5 linked regions of the Homo sapiens genome follow. The protein of the gene in region 1 purifies or fractionates together with the protein of each later gene. This does not show direct contact. Each region holds a gene or a part of one and is shown in the gene's direction. Other genes may lie near its edges. The genes, in order: PLEKHG5, PDP1, PALS1, GNB4 and VDAC3.

Evidence for each region.
Region 2: the proteins of PLEKHG5 (region 1) and PDP1 purify together in Homo sapiens (affinity purification with mass spectrometry; 2 studies listed by BioGRID and IntAct, with this or other methods). This does not show direct contact.
Region 3: the proteins of PLEKHG5 (region 1) and PALS1 purify together in Homo sapiens (co-immunoprecipitation; one large-scale study listed by IntAct). This does not show direct contact.
Region 4: the proteins of PLEKHG5 (region 1) and GNB4 purify together in Homo sapiens (affinity purification with mass spectrometry; one large-scale study listed by BioGRID and IntAct). This does not show direct contact.
Region 5: the proteins of PLEKHG5 (region 1) and VDAC3 fractionate together in Homo sapiens (co-fractionation; one large-scale study listed by BioGRID). This does not show direct contact.

What each region holds. Positions count from the first base shown.
Region 1 is NC_000001.11:6,484,298-6,489,190, reverse strand, and holds part of PLEKHG5 (pleckstrin homology domain-containing family G member 5), read left to right. Parts: intron 1-3,239; exon of another isoform or gene 3,240-3,355; intron 3,356-3,723; exon of another isoform or gene 3,724-3,747; coding exon of another isoform or gene 3,748-3,867; intron 3,868-4,893. UniProt on the Homo sapiens protein: Functions as a guanine exchange factor (GEF) for RAB26 and thus regulates autophagy of synaptic vesicles in axon terminal of motoneurons. Involved in the control of neuronal cell differentiation.
Region 2 is NC_000008.11:93,922,762-93,927,477, forward strand, and holds the end of PDP1 (pyruvate dehyrogenase phosphatase catalytic subunit 1), read left to right. Parts: coding exon 1-912; 3' UTR 913-3,307; downstream 3,308-4,716. UniProt on the Homo sapiens protein: Mitochondrial enzyme that catalyzes the dephosphorylation and concomitant reactivation of the alpha subunit of the E1 component of the pyruvate dehydrogenase complex (PDC), thereby stimulating the conversion of pyruvate into acetyl-CoA.
Region 3 is NC_000014.9:67,327,859-67,332,751, forward strand, and holds part of PALS1 (protein PALS1), read left to right. Parts: intron 1-4,893. UniProt on the Homo sapiens protein: Plays a role in tight junction biogenesis and in the establishment of cell polarity in epithelial cells.
Region 4 is NC_000003.12:179,412,813-179,417,705, reverse strand, and holds part of GNB4 (guanine nucleotide-binding protein subunit beta-4), read left to right. Parts: intron 1-1,149; coding exon 1,150-1,213; intron 1,214-2,658; coding exon 2,659-2,821; intron 2,822-3,924; coding exon 3,925-3,991; intron 3,992-4,092; coding exon 4,093-4,294; intron 4,295-4,893. UniProt on the Homo sapiens protein: Guanine nucleotide-binding proteins (G proteins) are involved as a modulator or transducer in various transmembrane signaling systems.
Region 5 is NC_000008.11:42,397,452-42,402,344, forward strand, and holds part of VDAC3 (non-selective voltage-gated ion channel VDAC3), read left to right. Parts: intron 1-1,260; coding exon 1,261-1,413; intron 1,414-2,199; coding exon 2,200-2,252; intron 2,253-4,336; coding exon 4,337-4,564; intron 4,565-4,893. UniProt on the Homo sapiens protein: Non-selective voltage-gated ion channel that mediates the transport of anions and cations through the mitochondrion outer membrane and plasma membrane.

The sequences.
Region 1 (4,893 bases):
GGGCCTTGGGACTAGCAGGCTCCCAGGGGAGCTTAGCCTTGGTGGGAATTCCTGGCAAGGACATCCCTCCAGCCAGAGAGCTCGGACTCCTGGTTCCAGGCCCGTCTGCTGTCGGCAGAGCCTGGAGCTGGCCCCAGACCTGCGTCCTTTCCTGGACAGGGAAGTCCCTCTCCCACCCAGACCAGGCTGGGGCCCCAGCTCGTTGTGGGGCAGGGATGCCTGGGGGATCCCTGGTTTCCCATCTGCTTTTCTGGGGCTGGGGGAGGTGATACTGAGGGAGAACAGCCGGGTGCGGGGGTCCTGCCTTGGAGACTCCATTATTCATCAGCCTCCGCATCTGGTTTCTGGGTATCAGTTTCAACAAGCCGGCCCTGACTCACAAGCCTGGAGCTGGGGCTGGGCTGGGGAGGGGCTCCCTCCCCAGGGAGTTGGGGGCCAGGACTTCTTGGGCCTGCCCCTGAGCTGTTTCAGCTCCCTGCTGTGGAGAGGAGGTGGGAATGCAGGAGCCTGCCCAGGCCCACCCCACTGCCCTGGTACAGGGGCTGGGGGCTCCTTTCTGCTCTGCACTCTTGCCCCTAAGGAACAGTCCCCCACCCTTGCTGAGTACCCAGGCAGCAGCCTCACTCAGGGATGGCCAGGGCCCAGGCACTCAGGTGACCTCTGGTGATCCGCCCTGACCCAGCCCTGGTGGTCTCCACTTGATGCAACCTGGTTACCCCACACCGGTGGGCTCCCCACAAGCTGGCTTTGGGATCTGCCGTGTCTTCAGGAAGGCAATCTCCAGGGCCCTGTTGCCCAAACCAACATTCAGCTGTCTTCAGGCCCCACGCCTGCCCTGTGCCTGAGGCACCCATTTCCCTACGTAGCAGCAGCTGGTGACTTTGGGGCAAGTCAGTTGACACAGGCCTTAGTTTCTCTATCTGTTAAATGGGGATTGTAACAGTATCTCCTCCTAAGAGTCTTTGAGAAGAGCGAATGGGATTCACTGCCTGGAACTCCCACGATGGGGTGGCACATGGAATGCTCAGTGAAATGCAGTTATCTGCCTACAGGACAGTATGGGGGTGGAGGTCTGGGGCAAGACCACCCGATTTGAAGTAGGAACTCACCTGCCCAGGGCCAGCAGGCCCAAGGTCATGGATACTAGGAGGAGGAAGAGACCTTCGGTCTGGCAGTGGGGAAGGCTCTGTTGACTGTCGGCCACAGGAAGGGATATCCTGGCCGAGCCCTTTCCTGTCCCCATGTCCTTCTGTGGCATGAAGGCCCTTCTGCCTTCATCTGTTCACTGATCTCATCCCCACCAAGCGCACCTACTGTGCACCAGGACTGTTCTAAGTGCCGAGGACACAGTGAGATGCAGACGGCCAAGGCGCTGGCTTCTGGAGAGGACAGTCTGGTAGGGAAGAATGATGATAAAAAAGTGAACAAAGAAATGAATTACAGGTAGTAATAAACACTAAGAAGGAAATAATTTAACTTAAAGGAATTGAGAGTGGGAGGGTAAGGGTGGTTTATTTTAAGATGAGGGAAAAGGACGTCTTAGAGGTAACATTTAAGTTGGGGCCCGGTGTCAGCTGTTTCAAGATAGGGTGCGTGGAATTCCAGACAGAAAATACAGAGGAGAAGGCCCTGAGCTTGGCGAGCTGTAGGGAGAGAAGGAAGACCGGCAGGTGGACCCTGTGCGGACCAGCTGGGAGGGAGGCGGGAGCCCGGCCATGGTGGGATTTCACTATAAGCAAGATGGGAAGTTTTAGTTTTCAAAACTCTGCCTGTTGGCCGGGTGTGGTGGCTCATGCCTGTAATCTCAGCACTTTGGGAGGCCAAGGTGGGGGTGGATCACTTGAGATCAGGAGTTAGTGACCAGCCTGGTCAACATGGCGAAACCCCATCTCTACTAAAATACAAAAAGTAGCTGGGTGTAGTGGCGGGCGCCTGTAATCCCAGCTACTGGGGAGGCTGAGGCAGAAGAATCACTTGAACCTGGGAGGTGGAGGTCGTAGTGAGCTGGGATCATGCCACTGCACTCCAACGTGAGTGACAGAGCAAGATTCCGTCTCAAAAACAAACAAACAAAAAACAAAAACACAACTCTGCCTGTGGTGTAGACAGTGGGTGACCTGGGCTTTGGGAGTGGAGACAGCCCTGGAAGTCTCCCAGCCTCTAATAAAACGCTGCTGCCCTCCCAAAGCCATCTCACGGACCCTGGCCCCCTTCCCACCCTCTTTCCCCATGGAACCAGGTGGAGGAGGAGCAATTAGGGGTGGGTGGGCTGATGACAGACAGCATGGCCACCTCACCCCCATGGGTTCTGAGGAGTGTCCCAAGGAGGCCATCCCAGAATCCCAGAGCCACAGTCTGAGTTTCAGTCTTGCCTGTAGACTTTTGTCTCTTTATGTCACTTTATCCCCCACGCCGTGAATGGGGCTAATGGTGCCTGCCCTGCCTTCCTGGGAATCAGTGTAAAAGCGCTTTGACAGCCGTGTAGTGGTGACTCCAGCACCAGAGTCTGGGCGTTTGCGTCCTCTCAGGCTTTGCTGAGTGCCCCCTGGCGGTGGGGACCTGGCCTAGAACTGCAGGGACCTGGGCTGCTGTGCCATGTGGGTCGCCAGGGTTTCCTGATGCCTCCACCTCACCCAGCTCCTGGGGGCTGCCAAGGATAGCCTCTCAGAGCAGCCCGCCTTCTGCCCACGGCCCTTTCCAGAGGCCACCGGCCTTTGGCTCTCGGCCTCTGCCGTACCTGGGCAGTGAGCAGTCGGTGTGAGGGGGTGTCCCTGGGGCTCAGGCTCTCGGGCAGGGGTCTCCAGGTTGATGGGAGGGGCTGAGATGAGAGCTGGTTGTGAGGTTGGGGTGGGTGTGTGACTGGGGCTCAAAGCTGGTGTTGGAGCAGAGAGGGGTGTCCCTGGGGCTAGATGGAGAGCCGGACCAAGGACCCTGAGGGGAGTGTGCCCCATCCTGGCCTCCCCCTTCTGGTGCCTGTATTCTAAGAGCTCCCTTGCTGGGAGTAAGAAGGGGTCCCCTGGGCTGAGGCTCCGAGGCGGGGGTGGGGGTCTCCAGGAGGAAGGGAGGAGGGAAGGTACCCTTCTGGCTGGGAGGGACCGTGCGTGTTGGCGCTGAGGGTGAGGTGGGGACCACAGCAGAGTGGGCACCCCCAGGGCTGGGCGGGGATCGAGTCACCCAGGGGAGGGGCTCCACAGTCTCCAAGGTGGGGGGGGGTGTCACCAGCGCCCCCTGCCTCCAGCATTCAAGGAGCTCCCCAGGAGAAAGAGCAAGTTCTGAGGAGCCCTCTGAGCCCGGCATTGGTGTTGAGGAGGGAGTCAGAGAAGAGAGGGGCCCGGGGCCGCGCAGAGGCGCAGAGGTGGGGGTACCCCGGGCCAGGCAGAGGTGGGAAGGTGGGGGTCCCGGGGACTGGGCGGAGGCGGGGCTGTGGGGGTCCCCCGGCCGGGCAGAGGTAGGGGTGTGGAGTCCCCGGGTCTGGGCAGAGGCGGGGAGGCGGGGGGTCGCCCGGGCAGGCGGAGGCGGGGGTGTAGGGGTTCCCGGGCGGGGAGGCGGGGATCCCCGGGGCTGGGTGGCGAGGGCCCGGGCGGGAGGGAGGTGTCCGCCTTCCTGGGGGGCTGGGGGCTGTTCCGGGCCCGGCCCTCCCCGGGGTCCCCGCGCTCGGCGGGGGCGGGCGCGGCCGCACAATGGCAGGAAGCGGGGCTCCGCGCTTTGTCCGGCGGGCGGCGCAGACCGCGGCTTCCTCCGGCCGCCATGGGGACAGGACCCGGTGTCTCCGGACGCCTAGCAGCCTCCAGGCCGGGCCCGGGGCTGCCCCTCCGGGACTCGGAGCCCTCCTGGGCCGGGGGTCGTGCCCGCGACGGTGATAGCCAGGTACGGGGCCGGGACGGGGCGGGAACGGGGCTGGGTGCCCAGTTCTCGCCTGCAGCCGCCCAGTCCTGTGCGGGAGGCCAGGGAGGGGGTGCCCGTGACTATGGGCCCCGCGGCCCCCAGGGGAAGGATGCGGCCCATGGCGGCCGAGCCCCCTACCTGGGCAGCTGCACCCTGGTGACGGGGACCTCGGACTCCGGGGTGTGTCCCCGCCGGCTGAGATGTCCCCGCCAATTCTTGGCGCTTTGTGTCTGGGGCCAGCTCCGGACACACCTGTGGGTCCCGGGCCCTATGCTGGGCCGCCCCTCTCCTTTCCTTCCTCTGCCCTGGCCCTGCCCACAGCCTCCTCCTACCCCAGAGGCCTCTGTTTCTCCTTGTGCCTCTGGCCCCAGCCCTTGTGTGAGGGTGGACGCCTGGTTCTCTGTCCCCATCCTCACATGCGTGTATTCCCCAAAGGGCCCCCCTCTGTTATTTTGGCTGCCTGGCGTTAGAGGGGGTGGGAGCTGGCTGTTCCCATGGGTGGGCTCTCTCCTCCCTTGGGTTGAGACCTGGGAACATTCCCCCCCGGACCCTGGTGTCCCTCCTGCAGGACAGAGGCAGGACATGGTGGGCAGGCAGGCAGGTGAGGGAGGGGCAGTTGGGTCTGAGAGAAGGGGCTGGAGTCTGGCTTCAAGAAGGGGCCATTCCGCCCTAGTGCTGGGGGAGTCCTGCCTCTGGAGGGAGCTGGGGAGACTCTGGGGTTTGGGGGTGGGACGTGAGGCAGAACGGGGAGCAGAAACTGCACCAGGGAGCTCTGCCCACCCCAGCTTCTCAGTTGGGCTCATGGTTCTCCCGGGGGGCTTCCAGAACTTCATCGTCAACCAGATCTGCTCGACGAAGTCGGAAACCACCTGGTTCAGATCCTGGGGCTGAGCCTCACTGTGCCCCCAGTGCCCCTGAGCCTGGGGACTGCTGAGAGGAGGGAAGCAGATGAGGTCAGCCGGGCCTGGGCACCAGCCCCTGGCAGCAGCTGGAGGAGTCGAGCAGCCT
Region 2 (4,716 bases), on another chromosome or scaffold:
GCTCTAATTAATGCCTTCAAGAGGCTTGATAATGACATCTCCTTGGAGGCGCAAGTTGGTGATCCTAATTCTTTTCTCAACTACCTGGTGCTTCGAGTGGCATTTTCTGGAGCCACTGCTTGTGTGGCCCATGTGGATGGTGTTGACCTTCATGTGGCCAATACTGGCGATAGCAGAGCCATGCTGGGTGTGCAGGAAGAGGACGGCTCATGGTCAGCAGTCACGCTGTCTAATGACCACAATGCTCAAAATGAAAGAGAACTAGAACGGCTGAAATTGGAACATCCAAAGAGTGAGGCCAAGAGTGTCGTGAAACAGGATCGGCTGCTTGGCTTGCTGATGCCATTTAGGGCATTTGGAGATGTAAAGTTCAAATGGAGCATTGACCTTCAAAAGAGAGTGATAGAATCTGGCCCAGACCAGTTGAATGACAATGAATATACCAAGTTTATTCCTCCTAATTATCACACACCTCCTTATCTCACTGCTGAGCCAGAGGTAACTTACCACCGATTAAGGCCACAGGATAAGTTTCTGGTGTTGGCTACTGATGGGTTGTGGGAGACTATGCATAGGCAGGATGTGGTTAGGATTGTGGGTGAGTACCTAACTGGCATGCATCACCAACAGCCAATAGCTGTTGGTGGCTACAAGGTGACTCTGGGACAGATGCATGGCCTTTTAACAGAAAGGAGAACCAAAATGTCCTCGGTATTTGAGGATCAGAACGCAGCAACCCATCTCATTCGCCACGCTGTGGGCAACAACGAGTTTGGGACTGTTGATCATGAGCGCCTCTCTAAAATGCTTAGTCTTCCTGAAGAGCTTGCTCGAATGTACAGAGATGACATTACAATCATTGTAGTTCAGTTCAATTCTCATGTTGTAGGGGCGTATCAAAACCAAGAATAGTGAGTGGCTCTTTCACTGGCAATTCTCAAATGATATACATTTAAAGGGCAGATTTTTTAAAAAGATACTACTATAATAAACATTTCCAGTTGGTCATTCTAAGCATTTACCCTTTTGATACTCTAGCTAGTCAGGTACTCCAAATTGACTTTGCAGCAGGGTGGCAGGGTCAGGAGAGTCTGGTCCTGCCTAGCTCAGATTTCATGGCACCTGCACTTGAAGCAAGTCACTTCTTTATCACAGGTGTCTTGAAACATTAGCTTCTTTTACCAACCTGAGAAAATTAGGATGACCTGGCAAATAAGATCTTGAATAGGCCAAAAGCAAGTATCTTGCTGTGTGTAGTCTCTTGGTTAAAGTGAAGAAACAGTACTGTTCACACCTTTCTTCACTGAGATTCCAGTGTACATGAGAACATATATTTATTGCATGATTTTCTAGATACACAGTCTATGCATTATTCATATACATTTATTTTAGCCTAAAGTGGTTTTCAAATCCAGTTCTTCAAGCCATAAATGACCAAGATCCAAGCAATCTGAATTTGTTTTTGTGATTATTTGACTGGAATGCTTCTTAAGTGGAATAACTATACTCCGTTATCCACCCGATTTCCTAATGTAATTGAAAGATTTTCTATTTTGCCACACACTTGGAGACAATAAGGGTTTTTAGTTTTATCTACTCTTCTATTGAAGTTAAAGAAAGAAAAAAAGATTTTTTTATTTGTATTAATGAAAAGCTTTAGTTTAAAATAAGGAGATCCAGAATAAAAAGAAGAGACTGATCTCTTCAATTATTGTCATCTGTAGCCACCAGCACATCACTCTTATGTAATCCCCAAAGGCTTGGCATGCCGTAAGTGTGTGGTGGGTAGACTGCTGCCGGGGAATCGTACTTCTTATTTAGTAATGATAAGACTTTTCATTATTTTTGGAATTTTAAAGATGACATAAATAAGTTTAAATATCAATTTGGGGAGTAAGGTTTAATATTGCCATCGGGTATTGAGACAGGAGGAAGTTTCTGTTTTTCTCCATTTAGACATAGGTCAATTAAAATATTTGGGTTTAAAATGACTAAATGCTTTAAACATATTGTAGCTTAAGATATATGTGTTAAGATATATACATGAGAAACTTTAAAAGGTAACTACTGTGCATGCCTGATGCTTAATAGAATACTTAGTGGCATCAAATGTTTGCAGCAGTCTCCATAATTATATTCAGTCCCTTCTAATACTGTATCAATGTAAATGAAATAAATATATTCAAATTGGCTTTTTGATATGCATCAAGTGGCATTTTGTTCCTGTGTTTAATAGTGATCTGTATACAGCTGTGCACATATTGTCATCACTTATTCTAGCATCACTGTTAAGGCTGTGATTATGTTTGATATTCACCTGGATTTTAATACAAGCCAATATCAGCTTCCCATTGTGTAATAACTTGGGTGTTTAGGAGTCTTTTCACATTTTTTGGGGATATGAACTAGATGTTCAAGAACTCCTTCTGGACTGTGGATACTGAATCAGTGTACTATTGGCTGCAGAATTTGTTTCAATTGAAAATAGACTCAGGAAGATTGCTGCTCAGAATATCATATAATGTTTATTTTTTGAGGTGTTTTTGTTTTTATTTGTGTGTTTTTTTTTTTTTAAGTCAGCTTGGAACTTTTTTCCTGGGTAGTATTTGGGAGAGGGAAAGGCTGTACTATATATTTATTTCTAAATGTTTTGACTGGGCATTTTTCTTTTAATGAAATATGTGGACTGCTCTAGCAAACCCTATTTTCAGCTACTATTTGAATATTCTTGAACACCACCACTGAAGAGTTTCATATACACCAAATAATGTCTCATCTCTATAGTACAGGGAATATAAAATTGGTTTCCTGTGGTCATGATCAAGATAGTAGTATTATTACACAAGAAACTTGGTCTGCAGTCTGGAAGCTTGTCTGCTCTATAGAAATGAAAATGCAGCATGAAGTTGACATTGTGGAAATGAAAGTAATTGGGTATTAGAAATCTGAAAGTACTGTCATCTAAAAGCAATTGTGATTTTATTGTAATTGGTTGTCACTGTTGTACGGTGTCTAGAATTAAAGAATACATGTAAACTTTCATGGTATTTAGCCTTTCTTAAATTTTTTTAAAATTTAAACTTTCTAACCTATGTATTCAACTTCTGTATTTATATTTAATCAGTGGTTCATGTTATATAATACACCCTTAACTAGTTAAATGGAATGTTGGTATGGTACAGAGTACCATATTGCTAAGAAAACTGTCTTATAAAAGATGTATATGTGTGAAGACATGAAAGTTTAATGTACAGAATGGTTGGAGAAATGCCTATGGTGAATTAAAGCTTCATATCTGCTTTCTGAATGTCCTGTGTTGGTTTTTAATAACAAGATTGATTAGATGCTTCCTATGTGTGGTAGATTATATTTAATTTTAGGACCCAGTAGATACATAGTACTTCAAATTTGTAAAAATTGAGGTAAAATTTTTTTTCTTTTTTTTTTGAGATGGAGTCTCGCTCTGTCACCCAGGCTGGAGTGCAGTGGTGCGATCTCATCTTACTGCAGCCTCTGCCTCCTGGGTTCAAGCAGTTCTTCTGCCTCAGCCTCCCAAGTAGCTGGGACTACAGGTGCGGGCCACCACACCTGGCTAATTTTTGTATTTTTAGTAGAGATGGGGTTTCACCATGTTGGCCAGGCTGGTCTTCAACTCCTGACCTTGTGATCCACCCGCCTCGGCCTCCCAAAGTGTTTGGATTACAGGTGTGAGCCACCATGCCTGGCCAAAATTGAGGTATAATTTAAACAAAATGCACAGATTTAAAATTTGCGATGTAACATTTGGTAACACCCCAACAAAGATATAAAACTTTTTCTTCAGAAAATTCCCTATGCCCCTTTCCATTAATCCCTCCCCTCATAAGTATCATTCCACTTCTCTCACCATAATTTTGCTTCTAGAAATTTATATAAATCATACATGTACTTTTTTTTTTTTTCAGACAGTCTTGCTCTGTCGCCCTGGCTGGAGTGCATGATCTCGGCTCACTGCAGCCTCCGCATCCTGGGTTTGAGCAATCATCCTGCCTCAGCCTCCCAAGTAGATGGGACTACAAGCATGTGCCACCACACATGGCTAACTTTTGTATTTTTGGTGGAGACGGGATTTCACCATGTTAGCCAGACTGGTCTCAAACTCCTGACCTCAAGTGATCTGCCCACATCAGCCTCCCAAAGTACTGGGATCACAGGCGTAAGCCACTGCACCTGGCCCACATATGTACTTTTTATGTTTTACTTTTGCTCAATTTTTGGAGATTCACTTATGTTGTTGATTGTATTCATAGTCTGTTCCTTATTACTGGGTAGCATTCCAGTGTTTGAATGTATCACAATTTATCCATTCTCTATTGATGGATGTTGTCAGTCTCCCCCTGCCCCCCTTTAAAGATAATTTTTAGATTAATAATTCTCAGAAATGCTGTTTGGTTAAGGTGTAGCTTTAACTTTGCAAATAATGATTACAGGTAAGTTTTCTGTTAAAGCTTTGATGATAGGACCCTTAATGCCCTTAAAACAAATGGTGGGAATTTTTCATGGTGAAAAGTTCAGTGGGATTAAGGCGTGGCCCTTTGCTATTGGCCTCTTTGTTCCTCTCCCACTGAGAAGTTTGTTGAGTTCATTAAGCTTGGTAGATGATTGTGTTAATGACAAATTGAGAAAATGGCAAATTATACCTTGGTGGGTTTTTTGTCTTTTTTAAGAGAGTCTCAC
Region 3 (4,893 bases), on another chromosome or scaffold:
GTGCCACATTTTCTTAATCCAGTCTATCATTGATTTGGGTTGGTTCCAAGTCTTTGCTATCGTAAATAGTGCTGCAGTCAATGTACGTGTGCATGTGTCTTTATAGCAGCATGATTTATAATCCTTTGGGTATATACCCAGTAATGGGATGGCTGGGTCAAATGGTATTTCTAGTTCTAGATCCTTGAGGAATCACCACACTGTCTTCCACAATGGTTGAACTAGTTTACGGTCCCACCAACAGTGTAAAAGTGTTCCTATTTCTCCACATCCTCTCCAGCACCTGTTGTTTCCGACTTTTTAATGATCGCCATTCTAACTGGTGTGAGATGGTATCTCATTGTGGTTTTGATTTGCATTTCTCTGATGGCCAGTGATGATGAGCATTTTTTCATGTGTCTGTTGGCTGCATGAATGTCTTCTTTTGAGAAGTGTCTGTTCATATCCTTTGCCCACTTTTTGATGGGATTGTTTGATTTTTTCTTGGAAATTTGTTTAAGTTCTTTGTAGATTCTGGATATTAGCCCTTTGTCAGATGGGTAGATGGTAAAAATTTTCTCCCATTCTGTAGGTTGCCTATTCACTCTGATGGTAGTTTCTTTTGCTGTGCAGAAGCTCTTTAATTAGATCCCATTTGTCAATTTTGAGTTTTGTTGCCATTGCTTTTGGTGTTTTAGTCATGAAGTCCTTGCCCATGCCTATGTCCTGAATGGTATTGCCTAGGTTTTCTTCTAGGGTTTTTCTGGTTTTAGGTCTAACATTTAAGTCTTTAATCCATCTTGAATTAACTTTTGTATAAGGTGTAAGGAAGGGATCCAGTTTCAGCTTTCTACATATGGCTAGCCAGTTTTCCCAGCACCATTTATTAAATAGGGCATCCTTTCCCCATTTCTTCTTTTTGTCAGGTTTGTCAAAGATCAGATGGTTGTAGATGTGTGGTATTATTTCTGAGGGCTCTGTTCTGTTCCATTGGTCTGTATCTCTGTTTTGGTACCAGTAGCATGCTGTTTTGGTTACTGTAGCCTTGTAGTATAGTTTGAAGTTGGATAGGGTGATGCCTTCAGCTTTATTCTTTTGGCTTAGGGTTGTCTTGGCAATGCAGGCTCTTTTTTGGTTCCATATGAACTTTAAAGTAGTTTTTTCCAATTCTGTGAAGAAAGTCATTGGTAGCTTGATGGGGATGGCATTGAATCTATAAATTACCTTGGGCAGTATGGCCATTTTCACAATATTGATTCTTCCCATCCATGAGCATGGAATGTTCTTCCATTTGTTTGGTCCTCTTTTACTTGGTTGAGCAGTGGTTTGTAGTTCTCCTTGAAGAGGTCCTTCACATCCCTTGTAAGTTGGATTCCTAGGTATTTTATTCTCTTTGTAGCAATTGTGAATGGGAGTTCACTCATGATTTGGCTCTCTCTTTGTCTGTTATTGATGTATAGGAATGCTTGTGATTTCTGCACATTGATTTTGTATCCTGAGACTTTGCTGAAGTTGCTTATCAGCTTAAGGAGATTTTGGGCTGAGACGATGGAGTTTTCTACATGTACAATCATGTCATCTGCAAACAGGGATAATTCGACTTCCTCTTTTCCTAATTGAATACCCTTTATTTCTTTCTCCTGCCTGATTGCCCTGGCCAGAACTTCCAACACTGTGTTGAATAGGAGTGGTGAGAGAGGGCATCCCTGTCTTGCGCCAGTTTTCAAAGGGAATGCTTCCAGTTTTTGTCCATTCAGTATGATATTGGCTGTGGGTTTGTCATAAATAGCTCTTATTATTTTGAGATACGGCGGACGCATCACTTGAGGCCAGGAGTTCGAGACCAGCCTGGGCAACATAGTGAAATCCTGTCTCTACTAAAAATACAAAAAACATTAGCCAGGCATGGTGGTGCACGCCTGTGGTACTGGCTACTGAAGAGGCCGAGTTCGTGCTACTGCACTCCAGCCTGGGCAACACAGCAAGACTTGGTCTCAAAAATAAATAAATAAATAAATAAATAAATAAATAAATAAATAAATAGATATAGAAACTAAGAAGATGATGGTGTTACTCACTGGATGCAAAATGTAACCAACCAGTTATGTAATTGTACTCTGAATCTGTTCTTCTAGTATTGTGAAAGAATGGTATTGGCATAAAGATGTGATTTTTTTCTTGTATGTATTGTTAAAGTCACAGAAAATCATCTATATTGTGGTAAGAGAGAATATATGCCAGACAAATGCTCTGCTGTCTGTCAGAAAGAGGAATAAAGACACAATCTGGAACCAGGAAATAAATAATAATAATAATAATTATTATTATTATTATCAAAAGGAATAATCAGACACTTTAGCAAAAGAAATAAGTTGGAGGGCATTTGTCTTTATTGTCTCTTTTCTATTTAATTCATTTCTTTTTATGCTTTCTTTGACTATAATTTGCACTTGCTTTAGTTTCTCAAGATGAATGCTTAATTTTTAAACTCTTCTTTTCAAATGTAGGCATTTGAAATTATAAATTTCCCTCGAAACAGTTCTTTAGTTGCATCCCGTAAGTTTTGGCATTGTATTTTTGTTACCATTTTGTTAGAAGTATTTTCTAATTTCCCTTCATTTTTTTTTTTTTTTTTTTTGAGATGGGGTTTCGCTCTTGTTGCCCAGGCTGGAGTGCAGTGGCACTATCTCTGCTCACTGCAACCTCTGCCTCCCGGGTTCAAGCAATTCTCTTGCCTCAGCCTCCCGAGTAGCTGGGATTATAGGCATGCACCACCACGCCCAGCTAATTTTGTATTTTTAGTAGAGATGGGGTTTCTCCATGTTGGTCAGGCTGGTCCCAAACTCCCGACCTCAGGTGATCCACCTGCCTCAGCCTTCCAAAGTGCTGGGATTATGGGCCTGAGCCCCCGGCACCCCGCTTCCTTGTTTTTCTCTTTAACACATGAGTTATTTAGAAGTATGTTATATAGTTTCCACCTATTTGGAGATGTGAAAAAGATTTTAACTGATTTATAATTCCAGGTGGTCAGACCCTGAAAGATGTCAGTCTTTTCAAATTTGTTGAGCCTTATTTTATGGCCCAACATCTGTTCTTTCTTGGTGAATGTTCTGTGCACACCTGTTAGGATGTGTATTCCACAGTTTTTGGTGTAGAGGATGGTGTATCTGATTGTATTTATTCTACTTAAGTTTTTTTCTCCTGTGATATTTCTTTCTTTTTTTTGAGACAGAGTCTCACTCTGTCGCCCAGGCTGGAGTGCAGTGGCACAATCTTGGTTCACTGCAACCTCTGCTTCCTGGGTTTAAGTGATTCTCATGCCTCAGCCTCCCAAGTAGCTGGGATTACAGATGTGCACCATCACGCCTGGCTATTTTTTGTATTTTTAATAGAGACGGGGTTTTGCCCTGTTGGCCAGGCTGGTCTCAAGCTCCCGGCCCCATGTGATCCACCTACCTTGGCCTCCCAAAGTGCTGAGATTACAGGCGGGGGAGCCCCTGCGCTGGTATTGGTATTTCTAATAGTGCTTTATTACTCAATGATAGAAGTGCTGAAGTAAAACAGATTTTCAATTTTAACTCTATAAAATTGTGCTAAGAAAATGATGGCGTTACAAAATGTAACCAACCGGTTATCTAGTTGCATTCTGAATCTCTGAATCTGTTCTGCTAGTATGAAGGCTTGAGAGTGGCTATCTAGCAGTATGAACTTATTGTCAGTTTTGCCTAGTTCAGCTAAAAATTTTGAGCTAAAACATTTTGTTTCATCTTAGTCGTGGATTGTAATTTGAAAGAGAACTTCAGACATGAAGTACTAAATAAGTGATATAAGCCATTTTGGCACAAAATGGAATAACAATGCCTTAAATTTGATAAAAACTAGGTGGATTCGGGCTTTATCATTTTCATTTCAACTCCAATACCACAAAGTTTCAGTTCTCTGTGGAGTCCTAGAATGTTCTTCCAATAATCTTGAGCTTACGGTAGACATAAGTTTTAGCAAAAATGTCAGTGTGTTCAGTTACAGTGGTGAAGTAGATTCCCTGCTGGGAACAAAGGATTCTGTGTGCCATATTCAGATGTACAACATTCCAGAATGAGAGTCATGCAAGAAACTGCCTCAGGACAAGCCAGAGTTGTCATATTTTTAATATGTTTTCTTACTGTTACAGAAGTTCAAACAGTTGAATGATATAAATTGTTTTGTACTATGGGTCCAATATAGTATTGATGTGTGACTTTTATATCTGAGACATTTTGTCTTGAGTTTAAGTTAGTTGTCTTCATTGGCAGGGGTGATTTGAGGTGAGTTTCACTTTCTTGAACCCATGTGCCTGATAATTAGAGGGTTCAGGATAAGTTTTGCACATAGCCTTGCTGCCTGCTTATCTTTGTAAAATGGCCCTTTCCTTCAGTCAGTATTTTAAAGTAGGCTACTCTATATAGTTTCCCAAACTCTGGTAGGATACTTTTAACTCTCTGCAGCAGATAGTATAGGGCAAGGGCTCTTTACTAGAGCCAAAAGTAAATGGCATTTTAGGTCCTTGCTCCAACCAGAAAGGTTCACTCCATATTACAGATGTTACTATTAGGAAGAGGTTATAGTGTCTAGAATGTTTGAAAACAAATGTTTGTAGGGAAACAGTGTGTGTTCTTGAAGCTTGTAGTTTTGTTGGTGAGATAAGACAAAATATGTGAAAACCTAAATAGTGGTATAAAACAGGATATATTGAGTCCCAGATGGTTCATAATATGAGTCGTGAAGATGCCAAAGCAAAGGTAACCATTGTGGCCGTGACAGGGTTGGAAAGGAGCTCCTGAGGTTGGGAGAGACAGAAGGAAAGCTATGAAGGTCGCTCCTTGTTCTTTGGCCATCTCTGACTCATCCTATATTATTTGGTTAGGAAAGGAATTA
Region 4 (4,893 bases), on another chromosome or scaffold:
AAGTAAAAATTCCAAACAAGGCTGGGCATGGTGGCTCATGCCTGTAATCCCAGAACTTTGGGAGGCCAAGCGAGTGGATCACTTGAGGTCAAGAGTTCAAGACCAGCCTGACCAACATGTTGAGATCCCATCTTACCAGTCGTGGTGGTGCACACCTGTTATGCCAGCTATTCGGGAGGCTGAGGCAGGAGAATCACTTGAACCTGAGAGGCGGAGGTTGCAGTGGGCTGAGATCGTGCCATTGCACTCTAACCTGGGTGTCACAGTGAGTGTCTGTCTCAAAAAAAAAAAAAAAATCCAAACAAAACAAAAAATTTAGTGGCTAAAATTACTTAGGAGTTCATACTCTTTAGTTTAACAAAGCTTTCTGCAGTTTAAGCCCAGTCTGCTTTTCTCAACTTATTTTTCCATTTTCTCACAAACTGTACTACTGGAAGACCCACAATTCCTGAAACAACACTCAGTGTATTTTTCTACCTGTCATTGATCTTACATAGCTTTCTCCTAAAATACAGCCTTTTCTGTATCTTTAGCTCTCAACATTTTCTTTCAAGACTCATTCTCTTGTGATTAACTCATCTAGCCATTGTTCCTCCTTTACTCTCCTGTGGCATTTATTTTATACCCCTCTTCTGACAGTTTTTACTTACTTGATTTAATATAAATATGAGTAAATGTCTTATCTTCACCAGATGGTAGAGGCCTCAAGAGCAGGCGATGTATCCTGCGTTGTACCTCTAGTATTGTCATATTCTCAGGCTCTCAATTGGTGTTTTTAGATTGGATGAAATATGGTTGTTAGGCTTCTATGTACATTCTTGTCATGAAATTTAAGTAAGTCAGTAAGTACTAAACCAGTCAGCTAATATCCACCCAAATCTTGTATAACTAAGATGTTGTTACCACAAAAATGTTTAATCATAGCCAGACATTTTTAGTCAGTTGCTAAATTTTATTTTATGAAATATGTTCAAGATTTTTGGCATGCAGCATAAATTTTTTAAAAGTTGGAAGAACATTTTTTGGTATCAAGTTTTTAGTTGGAAAAATTGTATTTTTCTGAATTATTCTACATTAATGCAATGCATAACCAATTTAAGCTATTTTTTCCCTCTAAGTGTCAAATTATTTTTGTGTTTGTTCCTCTAGGCTGCTAGTCAGTGCTTCTCAAGATGGAAAATTAATTATTTGGGATAGCTATACAACAAATAAGGTAGAATTTCTTCATAATTCTTTTAAATAACCTTATATTTGTTTGGCTGTTCACCAGTTCTTTCCTTTATTCTTTTACCTCAAACTTAAATTGCTTTCTGAGATAAATTTATTGTTTATTTTAATCTAGTTCTTCTCTTTTGTCTTAGTGTTTACTTTTAATGTTTAACCCTTTTTCATTTCCAAAGATGACTCTATGTTTTACTAGAGGGCTCATATTTAATATATGAATATTAGAAGAGTACCATTTTACATATACTAATAAATGATTTTTAAAAATTCCCATTTCCTAATATGACAAAGACCTTGAGATTTTTATTTCTAGTTTTGGATAAGTTAGATGGCTAGTGGGAAGCTCTTCTTTGGCCCGCTCCAGGCACTGATTTGTGCTTCTGGACTTTTTAGAAGATACAGTAGATTGGAGGTAAATGACAACTTACGTAGATCTCTTGGTGGTAAAAGACTGTGGATGGTCCTAATACATCCACTGGAAGGAATCCCCAGTTTAAAATAGTTGAGTGGTGAAAAAGCTTCAGGAATACTTTGATAAGCTAATACCTTTATACTCTGTGTATACATATTAGTATTTTTATTAAACATTTGAAAATACCATTTTGTGAAATAATAATTTCAACCTGATTGAGATTTTAAAGCTAGCTAAGACAATTTTGTAATATAATAGTTTTTCTTTATTAATCATCATTAAGCACATTATCTTTCAACTATATTTTCATAAAACAAAAAAAATGTATTTTAAGCGTATTATTTTAGGTTAAGTGAGAGCATAGTAGTAATCCTGCCACGTGTTGATTCCCTGTATGGACTGTTTAGCCGTGGTATTCTCATACACCTTTTTTCCATCTGACCTTCAAATGATTGGTGTTAGGGTAACAAGGCAGCAGACAGTGTTGTTTCTAGAGCAATAAAAAACTATCACCATTGTTTGAATGAGATCCCAGAATAAGGGCCTATTAATAGAGGGATGCCAGTGTTGTCTTTTCATGGAAGACTCATGTAATCGACTCTGATACTTGCTAATTATTTCCCTAGTTCTTGTTCAGAGTTATGTTGGAGGAAATTTCTCTTCTGAGCACTATTACAAAAGTGAAAATTCTATTAAAACCTCTAACATTTTACACTTAATTTTTCAAATGGCAGTATATTAACCTTGGAACATCTTTATGTTCATTATTTTATTAAGAGAATTATTTCCAAAAAGAGCACTTTTTGACTCAAATGATTTGATAATACAAAACAATAGGCATTTTAATGTGCGTTAGTGTTGTATTTTTCATGGTTCACTTTCTCAAGCCATTACATTATTTTATTTGACTTATCTTTCTTAGATGTGTTTAATTTTTAATAATATTTACTTCATTGTAAATGGGTTTATGCAATAGATGACTGTTTTTGTAATCTGAGTGATGTGTGGTGTGTGCCCTACAGATGCATGCTATTCCTTTGAGGTCCTCCTGGGTGATGACCTGTGCTTATGCTCCCTCTGGTAATTATGTTGCCTGTGGAGGCTTGGACAACATCTGCTCTATATATAACTTAAAGACCAGAGAGGGAAATGTGAGAGTAAGCCGAGAGTTGCCAGGTCACACAGGTGAGCTTCCCTAAATATTCTTTCCCACCACACGATTCCTTGTGTGGAATGTGCTGATCAAGGACAAATGACAGATTGTGCTCGGCTGGCTAAAGGATGAGGATTAATCGGGTGGGAATGAAATTATTATGAACAAAGGAAACATTAACTTTTTATAGTCATACAAACGTTGATCATAATTTTATTTTTCAAAAATAGCTGTATTGTTTTTGTAAAAAATGATAAATTTACTGCACAAAATTCAAACTCATGAAAAATAAAGCAAATAAAATGTTCTCCATTTTCTGCTGCCATATAACAATTATGGGATTGTGGCATCTGTACTCAATTACATAATTGAAAGTATGCATTAAGGTACATTAGTGAAGTGCTTTTCACCATGATAGTGTATTGCTTTGTTTGCCAGTGTGCCCATCATAGTTCAATAGTGTAGTATTGGGTTAGTGGTGTTAATCAGGAATTTATTGCCACTTATCTGGTATCTATCCATCTGAATTTTTAGCCATACTATTTGACCATGCTTTTACAAAATCTCTAGAATGGTGTTTTTCTGACATTTCCATATTTTGAAACACTGATGAATGCTAAGCATTCAAATGCCACATCTTTCATAAAGTCTTCACTGTTGTTCTTCTGATTTCTTACAATATTTTATTTTTTTAATATTTTTTATTTGAAAAAAAAATTTTTTTAACTGCTCCTTGCAGAGAAGGGCTAACTCATAGGCGGTGCACCCAGAGGCATCCTCTCACAGTATTTTAAAACTATTTCTCCAGGGTGCTTAACACAGTCGGCCATAGATTATAGTTCTTCCCAAGGTAATTGTCTTAGGTGGCAGGGGCTGTGTCTTATTCAATTTGGTAACTTTCAGAGTACCCAGCACAATGTCATTAACATAGTTAATGCCTAAGAATGGTTTGTGGATAAAATTTGGTTTATAGACAATGTAGGATTTGAAGTAACTAAAAGTAGAACTATAGACTATATTGACAAACACTTGTTGCCCAAGTATTCTATTTTTAAAAATATATATTGCTATTTCACATGGTAACTGAGTTATTCAATCAGTGATAACCTAAAATTTGCTACTCTTTATGCTGTAGGGTACTTGTCCTGCTGTCGTTTTTTAGATGACAGCCAAATTGTTACAAGTTCAGGAGATACAACTTGGTAAGTTTATTCCAGAAGCACACTGATTATGGGTTTGAGGGTGGTAGCAGGAACTGACATAAGAAGAAGTAATTGTCATGAAATTTTGTTTTTAATTACAGTGCTTTATGGGACATCGAAACTGCCCAGCAGACCACCACATTCACTGGGCATTCTGGAGATGTGATGAGTCTTTCTTTGAGTCCTGACATGAGGACTTTTGTTTCTGGTGCTTGTGATGCCTCTTCCAAATTATGGGATATTCGAGATGGAATGTGTAGACAGTCTTTCACGGGACATGTCTCAGATATCAATGCTGTCAGTGTAAGTGAATAGCATTTCTAGAGAAAATTTATTATGCATTTAAAGTGTTGAGCTCTATGGCATGATTTTAACAACAAATTGCCTTCAAGGATTCTTACAAGTAATGTGCTCTTATAACTTTGAATCTCCAAGTCATAAGGGTTTTTGATTTTTTAAAAAAGAAAGCTTCAATTCATAGTCCTAGATCTTTTTTGTTATTGTTGGATTTTTTTTTGTTGTTATTTTTTTGTTTTTTTGAGACAGTCTTGCTCTGTCGTCCAGGCTGGAGTGCAGCGGTGCAGTCACGGCTCACTGCAGCCTCGACCTCCTGGGCTCAAGCGATCCTCCCACCTCAGTCTCCTGGTAGCTAGGATTACAGGTACACACCACCATGCATGGCCAATTTTGTATTTTTTATAGAGATGGGGTTTTGCCATGTTGTCCAGGCTGGTCTCGAACTCCTGAGCTGAAGCAATCTTCCTGCCTCGGCCTCCCAAAGTGTTGGGATTACAGGCATGAGCCACTGTTCCTGGCAACCTAGGTTTTTAATTGCTGGTGAATATCACTTTTTTTTTTTTTTTCCAAAGTGGAGGGATTATCATGAGTAAACAAGCAGATCG
Region 5 (4,893 bases), on another chromosome or scaffold:
TGGTCAGGGTTGGCAGCATCTCATTACTGTTGGCAGGATTTCAGAAATGCTCCCTAAAACAGGACCAATCAGAATGTTTTTTCTTGACAGTTCATAGATTGTCAGTGACAGGTGCTGTCTGCTTTCCCCAGAAGGAGGTCCATTTCTAATTGCTTATTGTCATATGACTTAAAGGGCACTGAACTAGGGCAAAGGATGTATTTTATTTTATTTTATTTTTTTGAGACAGAGTCTCATTCATAGTAACTGTTTGATAGAAAGCACTCTTAAAGGTAGACAGGATAGAAAGGGGGAAAGAAGGATAAATTATAGCATTCTACTTTATTTTGAAAAATGGGTAGTACTTTCAAATATTGAAATTGTCTAAGCAGAAGTTTTGCAGTTTTGCACACAAAAGCATTAAAGTTTTCACAGCAGTGTGACTGTACTTAATGCCACTTCACTGTACACTTAAAACATTATTAAAATGGTAAAATGTATGTTACATGTATTTACCACAATAAAAAAAAACATTTTTAAAAGGAAGTAGTAAAGTGTTGACCCTATTAAAAAGGAGGAGGGCAGTATTTTGGGATTTTTAAGGACCTTGAAATTAACTGATAGTTTGAAACATATAGCAGAGAACTGATAATCTTTTTTTAGGTCATGAAAGTAAAATGTTTAAGATACAATATTTTTGGTCTTTTTAGTAAAGGCATTTGTTTTCAGTAAAGATACTTCTTTTTTAAAGGAGAGAATTTAGGATTACCATTTGGTAAGAGAGTATATGGAACAAGAGATATTAATAAGAGAAGTAGAGTAATGGAAAGATCTGAAACTGGTATTGAGCTGTCTCACTCCGTTGCCCAGGCTAGGGTGAAGTGGCATGATCTCGGCTCACTGCAACCTCTGCCTCCTGGGCTCAGGCTGGGACTACAGTCACGTGCCATCATGCCTGGCTAATTTTTTGTATTTTTTGTAGAGATGGGGTTTTGCCATGTTGCGCAGGCTGGTCTTGAGCTCCTGGACTCAAGGGATCCACCCGCCTTGGCCTCGTAACATGCTGGGATTACAGGCATGAGCCACTGCGCCTGGCAGAACTGGTTAAAATATTTAGGGACTGGAAAAGCAAGGGGAAAGGAGGAAAGAAGTTGCTCTAGAGTAGGGCTGTGGCAAGCAGTAAATGGTATTGTTTTTGATACATTGAACACTGCTTTCCAAAGTGAATATTTTCTATTTGATGAGCTAATTTTAAAGTAATTATTTTTTCTTGCTTACCAGGAATTTTCTACTTCTGGTCATGCTTACACTGATACAGGGAAAGCATCAGGCAACCTAGAAACCAAATATAAGGTCTGTAACTATGGACTTACCTTCACCCAGAAATGGAACACAGACAATACTCTAGGGACAGAAATCTCTTGGGAGAATAAGGTAAGAGAACGCATTAGAAGTTATTCATAGGTTCAATTTATCTTGTAGATTGAATGATGAACATACCCCAAATATAATCAAAAGAGATCTTACAACCTATCTAGTAGCCATATTTTTTCTCTGCATGTGGCCTTTTTTGATGTCTTATGTTTCTAGAAAATAAGGCTTTGTTTGTGAGTACTCTAATTACTATATTACATCTTTGTTCTGACTGGTTCTCTGTTACACAGCTAAGCTTCTCCTGGGTAGAACAAACTATTTGCGGAAATTTGGTTTAGTTTTGTAATTGTTGAAAAATTGGCTTGACAGAAAAATTTTTCTAAAATGTTCTCATGTTTTCAAGGAGAAAATCTATTAGATATAGTCAAGTGCCCACTATGTACAGGGCACTGTTTTTGATAGAGATACCATGTATAGATAATGTACATGCAAAACTGAGTAAAATGACTTAGCCTGCTTGTTAAATGTCAGGTTATCTCATTACTGCTCTTTCAAGAGAGTATCAAGATGATTTTGTTGTATGGGAATTCTGTTTGGTTTTGAACTGTATTTTATGTAACTTGCTAAAATAGGATTTGCCCCATTTTTTAGTGGGAGAACCATGATGAAGGCTGGGGTGAGGGGACAGGAGGATGGAGAGCTTACTTATTACATAATTTAATATTTTGCTTTCTTGAATGACTCCTTTTTTTTGTTAAAGAACTCAGGAAACTTTAGAATTGGTTTCTTGAGTTGGATAAATGATTGAAAATTACTAATTATTTATTTTAAATCTTTGTTTTTCAGTTGGCTGAAGGGTTGAAACTGACTCTTGATACCATATTTGTACCGAACACAGGGTAATTATTCAAATCCCATTTCCTGAAACGTTTTTGGAGCCTGAAAGGGTAGAGAGCTTTAGAATAAGGAGATATAGTGCAAAGTTCAGAGGCAGGAAGAACTCAGAAGGTTGCTATAAGGAATATTGGAGACCTTGTATAGGTAATACAGATAAAGGAAGATCCCTCCCCACCAAGGCAGGATGAACAATTTGAAAACTGAATAGATGAGCAAAAATGTATAAATGTATTTGAGAGAGACACATGGTAGAAAAAATTTAGGAGCTAGAAGAGTCTTGAGACCATAGATGAATCTTAAGCAATTCTGAAGATTGATGGACATGGTATTCTGCTGAGAAAGTTAATTCCTTTTGGCTGGGCGTGGTGGCTCACGCCTGTAATCCTAGCACTTTGGGAGGCCGAGATGGGCGGATCATGAGGTCCGGAGATGGAAACCATCCTGGCTAACACGGTGAAACCCCATCTCTACTAAAAAATACAAAAAATTAGCCAGGCATGGTGGTGGGCGCCTGTAGTCCCAGCTACTCAGGAGGCTGAGGCAGGAGAATGGCATGAACCCAGGAGGCGGAGCTTGCAGTGAGCCGAGATGCACTCCAGCCTGGGCAACAGAGCGAGACTCTGTCTCAAAAAAAAAAAAAAAAGTTAATTCCTTTTTTTTCCCCCTCACCCTCTCTTATGGTGCTGAAAAGTTAATTTCTTAAGAAGGTGATCTGGCTCTCAGATGCTATAATGATTAGTTCTGCTGCCTACTTGATTTCTTAGCCTCTGTAAATCCCCCAACTTCTTGACCTCAATTTCCTCGTGAAAAAAAGGGGGATTGTGTCATTTCCTATCTGCCTAATGTGGGTCCATGCTATCTGAAGGACGGAGGTTGCTAGATGAATGCAAAGTGACATTTGTCTCAGCCGTAACAACAGGTGTGTTCTTTTTGCCACACACTTCAGTTATCTTTAGGACAAATATTCTTTTCTTTTTTTTTTTTTTTTTTTTTTTTGAGATGGAGTCTTGCTGGAGTATAGTGGCACTATCTCAGCTCACTGCAAACTCTGCCTCCTGGGTTCAAGCAATTCTCCTGCCTCAGCCTCCCAAATAGCTGGGACTACAGGCATGCACCACCACGCCCAGCTAATTTTTGTATTTTTAGTAGAGACGGAGTTTTACCACGTTGGGCAGGATGGTCTCTGTCTTGACCTCGTGTTCCGCCTGGCTCGGCCTCCCAAAATGCTGGGCTTACAGGCATGAGCCACTGTGCCCGGCCAGGACAAATATTCCTACAAGAGGCTTGATTGGAATAGGGTTATTAAGAACTAATTTCATTTTTTCAGTATTGTCCTTCAAAAAAGCATGCTTCTCTCCATGATAGGTTAATAATGTATATTGGGGATTAATTCTTTGTGGCATTTGGCATTTGGAAACATTTAAAGAGATTTGGCTTCTTGTACGTCTGTATACATACACCTTCAGATTATTAATTTGGCACTGAAATATCTTATTCATTCTTTTTTTTTCTTTTGAGACGAGTCTCGCTCTGTCGCCAGGCTGGAGTACAGTGGCATGATCTTGGCTCACTGCAACCTCTGCCTCCCAGGTTCAAGTGATTCTCCTGCCTCAGCCTCCCAAGTAGCTGGGACTACAGGCGTGTGCCACCACGCCCAGCTAATTTTTGTATTTTTAGTAGAAACGGGGTTTCACCATGTTGGCCAGGATGGTCTCAATCTCCTGGCCTCGTCATCCGCCCACCTTGGCCTCCCAAAGTGCTGGGATTACAGGTGTGAGCCACCACACCCAGCCTCTTATTCATTCTTATACTTTTGTTCATGCTTTTATGAAATAAATCATGAAGTATCCTATCATTTGAACTTATAATGAGTAATAGATGATAGTAGTCTATACATGTCTAATCCTAACAAAATTATATTTGTAGAACTAGGTCATTTGAAATGTTTTTACTATATATGTGGCATGTACCAAAATAATATTTACATTGGGAGATGAGAGAGAGGATCTTACTCTAAAAATTCCTAGACAGTAGTAAGAACTCATGTTGTTTTCATCATTTGCTTTTGTTTGTTTGTTTATTGCAGAAAGAAGAGTGGGAAATTGAAGGCCTCCTATAAACGGGATTGTTTTAGTGTTGGCAGTAATGTTGATATAGATTTTTCTGGACCAACCATCTATGGCTGGGCTGTGTTGGCCTTCGAAGGGTGGCTTGCTGGCTATCAGATGAGTTTTGACACAGCCAAATCCAAACTGTCACAGAATAATTTCGCCCTGGGTTACAAGGCTGCGGACTTCCAGCTGCACACACATGTGTGAGTGTTTATAATTTATTCCTTAGTATCAGTGCAGTTGCCCAAAATATTGTAGCCATTAGCATGCTGAGAAGTGATGGTACTCAGATTTAGCATGCCTTGGTGAATATCCATCCTTGCGGTGCTATCCTCATAGCAAAACCTTGCCAGGAGGCTGGTGCACGTGGTGTGCAGGCTGTGCTGCTGGTGGTCACTGGCCCCTCAGCCTGCACCCCAAACTTGAGGAAGCTCCAGCCTCTGTAGAAGAACCACTGGGATAGAGGGAGCCCAGAGCATGGCTTACCTCATGGTAAGATGACCCTTTGGAGATGTTACTGCTTCCTCTGCTG